Linked DNA regions of Homo sapiens: region 1 is linked to region 2. The links come from fine-mapping of genetic effects on gene expression. A gene starts in region 2. The other region holds a variant in brackets. All regions are shown on one strand. Distances are from middle to middle. Region 1 overlaps DNAJC13 (DnaJ heat shock protein family (Hsp40) member C13). Region 2 holds the start of DNAJC13 (DnaJ heat shock protein family (Hsp40) member C13).

What was found.
Region 1: its variant is fine-mapped to the expression of DNAJC13 in whole blood (TOPMed, PIP 0.96).

Annotation. Positions count from the first base shown.
Region 1 is chr3:132,462,646-132,468,028 of GRCh38, reverse strand. It overlaps DNAJC13 (DnaJ heat shock protein family (Hsp40) member C13), which reads right to left. Exons shown (of 56, transcript NM_015268.4): 17 at 4,212-4,333; 18 at 1,959-2,034; 19 at 1,635-1,730; 20 at 716-859. Among named protein-coding and RNA genes, the nearest start is that of DNAJC13, 48 kb to the right of the region's middle. The variant T/C (reference allele first, on the strand shown) is at 2,347.
Region 2 is chr3:132,414,479-132,419,861 of GRCh38, reverse strand. DNAJC13 (DnaJ heat shock protein family (Hsp40) member C13) reads right to left here and starts at 2,360. Exons shown (of 56, transcript NM_015268.4): 1 at 2,102-2,360. RefSeq lists enhancers at 1,496-2,031, 1,971-2,120 and silencers at 2,151-2,290, 2,571-2,670.

The DNA of each region.
Region 1 (5,383 bases), 48 kb before region 2:
CTCCAAAACACTTGTCTGGCTAGTTCTGAATAAAAAGGCTAACAGGAAGAGCACCTTTATTTTTATAGGTGCAAAACAAAGTCCAGAGAAGAAGGGAAGAAAATAAATACATATGAATAAAAAAGAACAAAAACTGGAATGGAAGAAAAATTAAGAGTGGAATTCTATATTAAATACCAAAATAAAAACCTAATCATCAACTCATAAAACTATGAACTAAGGAAAATGTATACAAAAATATGAATTAGAAATTAGGTACCATTCGGCCGGGTGCGGTGGCTCACGCCTGTAATCCCAGCACTTTGGGAGGCTGAGGCAGGCGGATCACGAGGTCAGGAGATTGAGACCATCCTGGCTAACACGGTGAAACCCCATCTCTACTAAAAATACAAAAAATTAGCCGGGCGTGGTGGCGGGTGCCTGTAGTCCCAGCTACTCGGGAGGCTGAGGCAGGAGAATGGCGTGAACCCAGGAGGCGGAGCTTGCAGTGAGACGAGATCGCTCCACTGCACTCCAGCCTGTGCAACAGAGCAAGGCTCTGTCTCAAAATAAATAAATAAATAAAATAAAAAAGAAAGAAATTAGGTACCATTCATTTTTAAGCTTCAGGTATTCAGCAAGAAATGTATCGATACCATCTCTGTGAACAGCAGGAACTAAAGTAGACTAGGACACACAGAAGTGCCAGGAATTTGGAAGCAAATTTTATTTTTACCTCTTTTTGAGCAATGCCCATCCTATCCCTCCAGTGCATCAATACAAGATCCACTTTTTCTTTGGCAAATTTTTCAACTTCTTTAGCAGCTTTTCCAGCTAGTCTTTGCCACTCTGGAACTTTATTAAATTTTCCATACTGATCCTGTAAAATAATGTTGGAATCCATTACATGCCTGTTTGCAAATTTATTTTAAAACTCTATGTAAAGCTGAGTCATTCTATCTATTTTATAAGGTTAATGCTGGATGTTATGGTTCAGTGAAGAAACAAACTGAAAACTTCTACAATTATACTTTTTATCCAAGAAACTAACTTTTCTACTTAGGTTTCAAGATGATTCTTTTATGAGGGGTGGCAAGATGCAAGTGGGAGCTGGGTGCAGACAGAGAAGGAGTGATGACAGAAAAAGAATACACGTAAGAAATTATTATAGTAGTGTATCATAAAGATGTTTAATTTTTCCATGGATGGCCCAACCTTATAATTAACATAGATCTTGTAAGGAAAAAAACCCTACCTATAACTTTTTTCATGGTTGGCCGTTTTTACCAACAACATTTATCAATCTCATATGTGCAAAATACCATATTTACACACTTACTGGTACTCCAGAACGTACCAATAAGTTGAATTAGAGAAACAAAACACAGAATAAAATGACCACTATTCATAACATTAATTTGTGGTGATAGCTGCACAACTCTGTAAATATACCACAAATTATTTAATTGTATACCTTAAAAAGATGAATATTATGGGATGTAAATTTTACCTCAATAAAGATATCAATAGTTAAGTATACTATTCAATGCAATGAATTCTTTGTTTCTAAAATTTTTAACGTGTTTCAAAAAAAGACATATATATAACAGTACCCTTACTCCTAAAAAAGGCACACTTGGGACAGTCATATTTACCATTGCTATTTTCACATTGTCTCTAACATGCATCCGATCAGCATCCTTCTCAGGTACGAGATCTGAGCTTTCCAAGTATGCCAGCAAGCCTGGCGGCTAAAAACACAAAATCCATTTTCAAAACAATGTGAAAAAGAAAATTTAGCCTTAAAAACCCAAATAAATTAATACTGTGGCTTAGCTATTGAGGGTAAAACTTTACGGTAACTCCTATGATAAATAACTTTTCAATAAAAAACAAACCATCCCCTTTTAACAGTACAGATAACTTGTTCAATTAAATTTTATTAGGCAGTATATAACCTAATTTCTCAACTGACTTACCAAAATGCGTTTCAACAAGTTTGTTGCAGTTGCATTATCAGCTGTCCAGAGTCCCACTAAATGTCTACTTAGCTGTCTGAAAAAAGCAGACGTTGAGAAAGGTTTGCTGCTTTATCTCAGCTAGAACAGAAAGGAATTTTTAAGAACAAAATATCACATAATTATAAAAAATACGGCTACAGTAAAAAAATCATTCCGATGTTAAAAATAGTTATTAAAAAATTTAATGTGGAGAGTTATAATTCAAATATTACTAATATTTTGGAATTTTCTAAAAATTAAAATGTTTTCCTAATAAACATACACTCATTTTCAATAAACCCGAACAGGAAAAAAGTAGGTTTTTATCCCACTTAAAGGAAGAAAAAAAACAACAAAAACAATTAGA[T/C]TTGATGACACAATTAATTTGTTTAACCAGTCCTACTAATATAGTGACAATGGCATCCTGGCATTTTTTGGAATTCTGAACAAGCAGAAGTCAACAACTGTTCTAATATAACCGTTTTGGCAAGATCAGAGAGAAAATTATTTTCACTTCTAGAGTTTGGGCAAAGACCTAAACCACTTATAGCAAATTATTCAACTCATCTCACTTAAAAGCTATAAAAGTATATTTTAATTCAAAGTAAAAATCTAAGATCCAAGTTCAATCTATGGTTTAGTCATTTACTAATTTTAATCCCCATTCAACACCTGTCACCTTAACTGAAAGCTCCTCATAAGTAGAAACCCTATTTTACCCACCAGTGACCCTTCTGTGCTTTGGTGGGGATTCAATTACCATAGCTATAAGAATGGTCATGAAACCTATGAGGGAAATATCCAAATAACCACCCACAAACATATGTTTTATATATGTTACATTACTGAAGAACAAAATTTAACTGCAAAACCCAAAATATACTTTGTCACCAGAAAGTGAACGCCACTAAAACTGTTCATTCCTGTGCCAATTTGAAAGCTAACATATTGAAGTAATTAAACTTGTAATTTCCTTCACTGGCATTTGGTAGGTTATCATATCAGTGACTCCTAAAAAGGCTTTAGTTAGGGACAAAAGAGATAACATTTTATAACAGCAATTTGTAAAAGATAAAGCAATGCAAATAGAGTGATATTTCTATTATACATTGACAGATCTTTAACAGTGTAATTCAAATATTACTAACCTTTTGGAATTTTCTCCAAATTAAAATGCTTCCCTAATACACTAATTGATCACAGTAGGGAATTTAACTGGTTAACTATACTGAAGAGAAACACAACAAGCAAGCATTTAACATGGGGAGGGGTTAATGGAATAAGCTATCAATAGTCTCTAATGAAAGATGGTGTCTAGCACTGCTAATAAGACAATACTAGGAAAACATCCTTATTATCTTTATCCTCTAAGACTAGTTTTGTTCTTAACACAAGTGAGGGAGGTAGTTTCTTCTAATAGTATAAACAGTAAAAAAAAAATCCCTGGCAAGGCAGCATACCATGATGTATAATAACTGCACATAGATGACAAAGAAAATGTACAGTATTGTAACAAACTAAACGTTTAACTCAGCAACTTATGCTATTATTTAAAAAGTCAAAAAATAAAATTAAAACTATTTATGATACTGTTTTTACTAATATGAGTCATAATATAGTATGCTTAAGATAGCTGAAAGGGTCACATGTTAGAAACCACAAAGAGGGTTAAAAAGGGCTGGAATTCATGTAGTGTGGAATAAGTGAATAAATTTATGTGTTTATATTTGAATGACTATCAGGAAAAAGGGAATCATTTAATTACAAGAGATTTAGGTTAAGTCTAGCTTAGGCTGGATATGTAAGGTTTTCTGTGGTTTTTAAAGTAGAGTATTTGACCAAAGATATTTAAAAATCAACTATGTGAGGTTTTCCCATGGGGTCATGTGCATGCAAGATGGTCACAGGGATATAAGGAGAAAAGACCTGAGCATGTGGTTCTAGTTCCATAAGCTTTTAAGTACCCTTTTCCATATTGGTCCCATGACTATGGTGTCAGGGCCTGATAATAGGTCGGGGAAAAAAAGTAAACAGTGTTTCCCTCCAGGTTTTCCATAGGCAGGGACAGTGATCACTTGGGCAAAATCCTTCTGTAAGGAAAGGAAAAGAACTAGGTGGATCAAAAGAAAATGTATTATTTGTGTAATACAAACACATTTAGTTTTATGTAACATCTGAATCAATTCTCTAGACAGGAAGTTAAATTGCAGCAAATTGAATTAAATCACCTACCTATTTGTAAGCATCCTTTGATCTGAGCTTATTGTAAACATCGCAGTATGCAAGTGTCGAGGTAAGGCACCTTCACTTAGGGCAAGCTCCTGCATTTTTGTAGCAATTTCTTTATCACCTTCCTTTGGAAAAAGGGTAAGATGATCCCTAAGGTGGCAATCCAGGACAAGCTATCCAAACTTTAAAAAACTAATTTTACATATTTAAATGAAAAAAACATTCAGTATGTAATAGAAGTTTTTAAAATGCATCTTCTAATCACCCAAAAAAAAATAGGTGAGTAGTAGCACAGGTAATTTTTAAACCTTTGGAATAAGGTTGAGATGTTTCCAGACAAATTTACCTCATAAACTATGCTTTGCTAAACTTAATATTAAAACTAGGTTCACTCCCTCTGTGTATAGCTGCCAACAAAAAGGAGAGGCTTGGCTATCGCAAGCTCTGTAAAAGATGGGCACTTTGGAAGCTAACATTGAGCAAAGAACCCATTAGCTAAAGGGAGAAAATTAGCCTTTGGCTGTATATGCACACTAAAAATGCAAATAAACTTTGATGTTCCATTCAGTTCAATGCCTATATATATTTACAGCTACTTAAGGGCATACTAATTCTGTGATTAATTGTGTGCTATACTTATGCACAATAAATGAATTTTTTGGTAAAAGGAGACTTTCTTCAATTGTATTCAAATTGCTTCTATGACAACAAAATACAAGAATTCAAAAGCCATTTAGACTGATGTCATTGTAATCATCATAGTATGCAACAGACATTCATAGCTACAACCTTTTAAAAAATATAGAAGCATAAAGCAACTATCTTAAAGAAGCAGTATCTTCGACAAGATCATGCTCCAATCTCTAGAGCTCAATTACAAATATGCTTTATCAAGAACTTTTTGTTGCCTTTCTTACTTGGTATCATTTTGGTATGAACTAACTCCATCAATAGATTTCTATACAAGCTCAGTATCTCAAGACTTCAACACTGTCAACATTATCCTTCCAAAAAAGAGCAACAGATAGAATGCTAACTTTTAAGTAAGTAAAATAAACAAATAATGCAGTAACAGATTTATTTGCTCTACAACTTCACTATGAAATTAAAACTTTTATTATTGAGGATTATTTCTGTAACAAGTTTAAAACTAATTTATAATAAAGATTTAAAAT
Region 2 (5,383 bases):
CCTTTATTGGGTCTAATAAAGTTGAGAAACACTGACTCAAGGAACTCTTTCAAAATATTAATAACTCCCCTTTAACTACTGCCATGTTTTACAGTGAACATTTAGGCCAAAACCTATTTGTAGCAACCAAATTTGTGCTGCAGTTTATCTGCACAGCCTTGTTTCAATTACTAATTTAAAGTACCTCAATCAGAAGCAGGGGAAAGGTATGTGTAGCAGAAACCTCATATTCACCTGTGTAAACAGAACTGGTTGAGGAATGAAGCCAAATTAGTTAAAACACATCTTTTCAATTTCAACCCTAATTTGGGACCTATTGAGAACCGGACTCCACTATCAACCTTTTAACAAATTTAATAAAGCCAGTATTGTTACAGTCCACCTGGGCAAGGCAACCATCTTCTATTTATTTGTGGATAAAGTTAAATTATTCCAAACAATTCATTCACTTATTAATATTTTATTTTTTAGCTTAAGTATTTTGTTTACAACTAAGCTTGTTAACAATATATAACATTAATATATTTTAGACTATTTATTACTACCACTTTAGAAAAAGAGGAATATTCATTGCCTCTCAGTGGAATACAAATGCTGATATTTTCCATGAACTGAACTCTAGCCTTAAGGTTCTTTACATTCTTATTTCTTAATAATCCTCTGACTCCTCTTTTCCTCCCTTAATATGTTCTACTTCCTGTTTTCAAACAAGGAGTATAATGTAATAATTTCTACACAAGGACGTGTGTTGCCTGAATGCATTGTGATACTAACAGCACAAGCCAAGTCTGAGATATAGTAGCTTAAAAAGCGTTTCACATTACACAAAATGTGAACAAGGTTTTACGTTATATGATAGATAAGCCAATAAAGTACTTTCCAAAAATCAAAGAACTGTGTTCTGGATACCGAATTTCTGACAAGTGGTTTCTATAAATTTATTTTTTTAAGGCAAATTCTGTTTCATACTCCCATAAACTCAAAGTACTGGTAATATATTATAAAACCTTATCACTGTAATTTTCCCTGCAGGCAGTAGTTTCAAACCTAGAAACCTATCAAGTCCATAAACTGAGAAAGAAAATATAGTAAGAAAGAATTACTGGGGGCAGGTTCTGAACTTCTACTTTTTTCCCCAAGACACTGTATTACAAAAGGCTCAACATAACTGTACACTATAAAGCCCTTCATAGAGGACGCAACAGCATCAGGTACAGAACCTCCTTTTTGAGGGAAATCAGAATAACGTAAAAGGGAAAAGCAGAGGGAAAATGAGAAATAATTACTTTGGGAGACCACCGCCACATTAGGGTGAAATCTTTACTTTTTTCCCCCCTCTAAGCAACGGACACAGGAAACAATCTTAAGACAAACGTGGTTAACGGAACACGCTACAAAAGGAGAAAATTTAAGGGAAGGCACTCTTAAACATAGTTAAGTATCAAGTGATTAACAGCCACTTCACTGAGCGTCTAAGTCCTACTTTACCCACTCCAAAGGCCACATTCAAAGATAAAATCACAGCAGCGGAGGAAAGGCCACGTGAATAAGCTGCCTTGCAGGAAGGAAAAGCCTTAGGGGAGAAAATGATTTTAGAAAAAGTACTGGAGAACAGACGACGCGGATGCTCATTTCCTAACAAAACGAAACAAAGCAAAGAAAGTCAGTCTGCAGGACTTGTTCGGAAGGAGGGTCGCTGACCCAAGGAAACAAGAGTTGCCGGCATCCAGCAGGAAGGGTGCTCAGACTAGGAGACTGGAAGGGAATCCCGAGGGCGGAACCCACAAGGGAATGAAGAGCCTGTGGGGTAAGGATATGTTAAGGCGAGTGGAGGAGCGTACTAGGTATAAAACAAGCAAAAAAAAGGGGTGGGGCTGGACAGGGCAGCGCCCTGAGCTAATGTCACTCAAAGCCGGGGGGGCGTCCAACGAAAGGAACCAGACCAGCAGCCTGGGGGAAGGGTAATCTGCTTCCTTAGCAGCTGCAGGCTGCAGCAGCCAAGACCACCCCGTTTTCCCTGCCCTGAGCCCCACAAAGTCCCCACGGCGTGGGAAGGGAGTAAGGCAGAGCCCCAGAGCCCAGTGCCCGGAGTCGGCTTTACCTTCGCGGGAGGCTGGAGAGGCTCCAGCCCTAGCTCCTCCCGCCGCCGGCTCAGCTTCCAGAGTGGGATGAGGCGCCCTCCGGCCTCCTCACCCTCACCACTTCCCCTTTCCCCCGCCGGGGCCCTGCAGCTCCGCTGCCGCGGGTTCCTGGTGCCGCCGCGGCGCTGCCTCCCCGCCCCCTCCGCCTCCTCCCTCTGCCTCTCAGAGTTTCACTCTGGAGGCCGCCATCTTCGCTCAGGCTTTGAGCGAGCGCGCTCTAATACGCCTGCGTCGCCACCGCCCAGGCTGTCACGAGACCCAGTCAGCTGATTTCAACTCTTCCGTCTTCTGCCCCGCCCTCCCCGTCCTCCCCGTCCCGATCGTTCTTTCCCTGAAATTCTGCTTTCCTCCGGCCAGCCCCCAGCAGCTACACATGCGCAGAGTAACGACACCGGCCGTGGGATTTGGATTCCACGCAGCGCGTCAGGGGGCTGGCGCCTCGGTGGGTGCTGAAAAGGACACGCCCCTGGGCGCGCGCGGGTGCCCATGACCACGCCCCTCCGGCGGGTGCCCATGACCACGCCCCTCCGGCGTGTGCCTTAGGGCCGCGCCCCTCCGCTTATGTCCTGCGGAGAGTAGGGTCGCAACCCGGTACTTAAGCTTTAAGTCCGAGGAAATCTTGTTTTAAATCACCTCTTTTTAGCTCTTGCCGTCAAGTGCCATGGAGCATCTGCGAGGCAGTCTGAAGCCTCAGCCTATCTCCTGGTTTGGCTGGATTGGGAGCCAGCAGGTTCATTTACTATTGAGACGTCCTGAACGACAGCAGAGCAGGGTTTAAGTTATGGATGCTCTGGAAGGTCTCAGAGACCAAATTCTCAGAGACGCCTAAGGCATTTGCAGGTGGGAATGCTGGAAAGATAGTTCTGGTAGCCCCATTTATTGTGTCCGGATCAAGTGTTTAGAAGTTTACTTAAAGCTGCTTAATCTTCAACTCTCTGAGATACGAATCATCCTCGTTTTGCAGATAAGTTGAGGCCCAGCCTCAGAGTAGTGGATTTCATGTTTGCACCCAAGTAATTTGAACCCAGAACCTGTGCCCTCTAGATAACCATCTTCCTGAACCTCACCTGAGAGGGAAGTCAGGGCAGTGAAAAGAGGGGATATTGGGACTAAAGGATTCGGCTAGAAATTATGTGTTATCTGTGGGCAATGGTTTAAATAAGAAAGGTCAATGTCCACTCCCAGATCTGAGCCGTAAAGACCACAGTTTAAAAATTAGTGATTAAAAAAAAAATAGTGATTCTGCTGCAGACTTCAGAGTAGAGGCAGTGTAGGGTGACCTGCATGGATACATTATTGTATAAGGGTTAAAGGTCTCTGATAAGGAGTTGAATACTCATTCTTCATGGCAGTCCTGAAATTGTGATTTCTTGGCGTCCCCTTCAGCAAGTTGGCTCATTTTATAGACAGCGATTGCAGGATGAAAAAATGTGGAAAAATGGTTTTTACAGACTTTACCTCTTGATTCTATTAACCCTTTGCCCTACCTTAGGGCGGAAAAAGACTATTTGTGTTTATCCTTAGACTTTTCTGTAATGCAGCAGTAAGATAAGGTGCATGTAAGGGAAGGTACTAGGAATAGCTGGGTGTGGGAAGACAGAACCCGAAATAGAGTAGGAAGGGAGGAGGAGGAAAAAGAAACAGGAGGGCTGTGTTAAGGGGCCTTATTGGCTTATCCCATGGAAACAGAAACGTGTTTATGTGGTTACAAAGCCTTCCAGTAATCCCAAAAGTAAATGTGGGGTATATTATTTCGATTTTAGAGAAGCAGCAGACCCAGAGAGTCCAGGAGACTTGCTAAAGGTGACCTAACTCCTAAAGGTTGAGCCAAGATTAAGACACAGGGCCTGCCTGTAACATCAAGGCCAGTGAACTGTTCAACCTCCACACTGCCTCTCTGTTCAATATTTGAGACCAATAAAATCAATTCTCGTGTTGAGAGGAGCCTTAGGCATCATGAATTGTCCCCATCCTCTGTAGTGCAAAATTGCCTCACAAGACATCTTTTTCCATTGCATTTTTATAAGCCATTTTCCTTGTATTCAGCCAACTTGCACTCTCTTCTATGAGTAGTTATTTTGTCTTTGTTTCTTGCTCTTTTCTTCTTGTATGTGACATTCATTTAAGCACTTATCAGTACAGCTTATCACCCTTTCCCACTCCCTCTCCCGTGCATATCCTTCTAACTACCCCTGCTACAGATACTCATTTTAAGAAACCATATTCAAAGTACTTTCAACCATTGTTCACAAGATGTAGTTTCAAGCCTTTTCACAACCACTGGTTGCTTTTAATTGGATCCATACAATTGGATCCTTCTTAAAATGCCACAACAAAATACAAGAGTCAGGGAGAGTAGGACTTGTCTCTTCTTTCCCTATTAGGTTAAATCAGTTGGATCCTTTCCCCACCCAACTCTTTTTTAAGAGTGACAAATGCACACTTCTTTTTCTGGATTTGTCTTTTTATTCATAATTAAAGTTTGCACTAGCGTTTCTGACACTTTCATAGTGCAGATGTATCAAATTTACAATCTAAATTATGTGATGTACACTTAAAATATTTCACAGCTTTTTAAAAAATACATTTCACAGCCTTTTAGGCACCAATAGCCTTTATCAGTCTCCAAAGTTAGCATACAAGGCTGGAGTGATCTAAGACTTTAGAGAGCCCACAAGAATGTCAAACACTTGCTTATCTAATTCCCATTGCTGCTAAATTGACCTTCCTAATTATATCAATGCCCAGATCCAAAGTAAATCCTTAAGAACTCATACCACTCAACAATGCTTGAACTATGTTTTCAGTACAGTAGCCACTAGCCCTATGTGGCTACTGAACACAGAATAAAAATTAAAATTGTTACAAAAAAATGTAAAATGTTGCATTAGCAATTTTTATATTGATTACACGTGTTAAAAGAAAAAAATATTTAGGCCGGGCACGGTGGCTCACGCCTGTAGTCCCAGCACTTTGGGAGGCTGAGGCGGGTGGATCACCTGAGGTCAGGAGTTTGAGACCAGCTTGGCCAACATGATGAAACCCCGTCTCTACTAAATATAAAAAAATTAGGCGGGCCTGGTGGTGCATACCTGTAATCCCAGCTATTCGGGATGCTGAGGCAGGAGAATCACTTGAACCTGGGAGGGGGAGGTTGCAGTGAGCCGAGATGGTGCCACTGCACTCCAGCCTGGGCAACAAGAGTGAAACTCTCAAAAAAAAAAAAAGTATTATTTAATGAT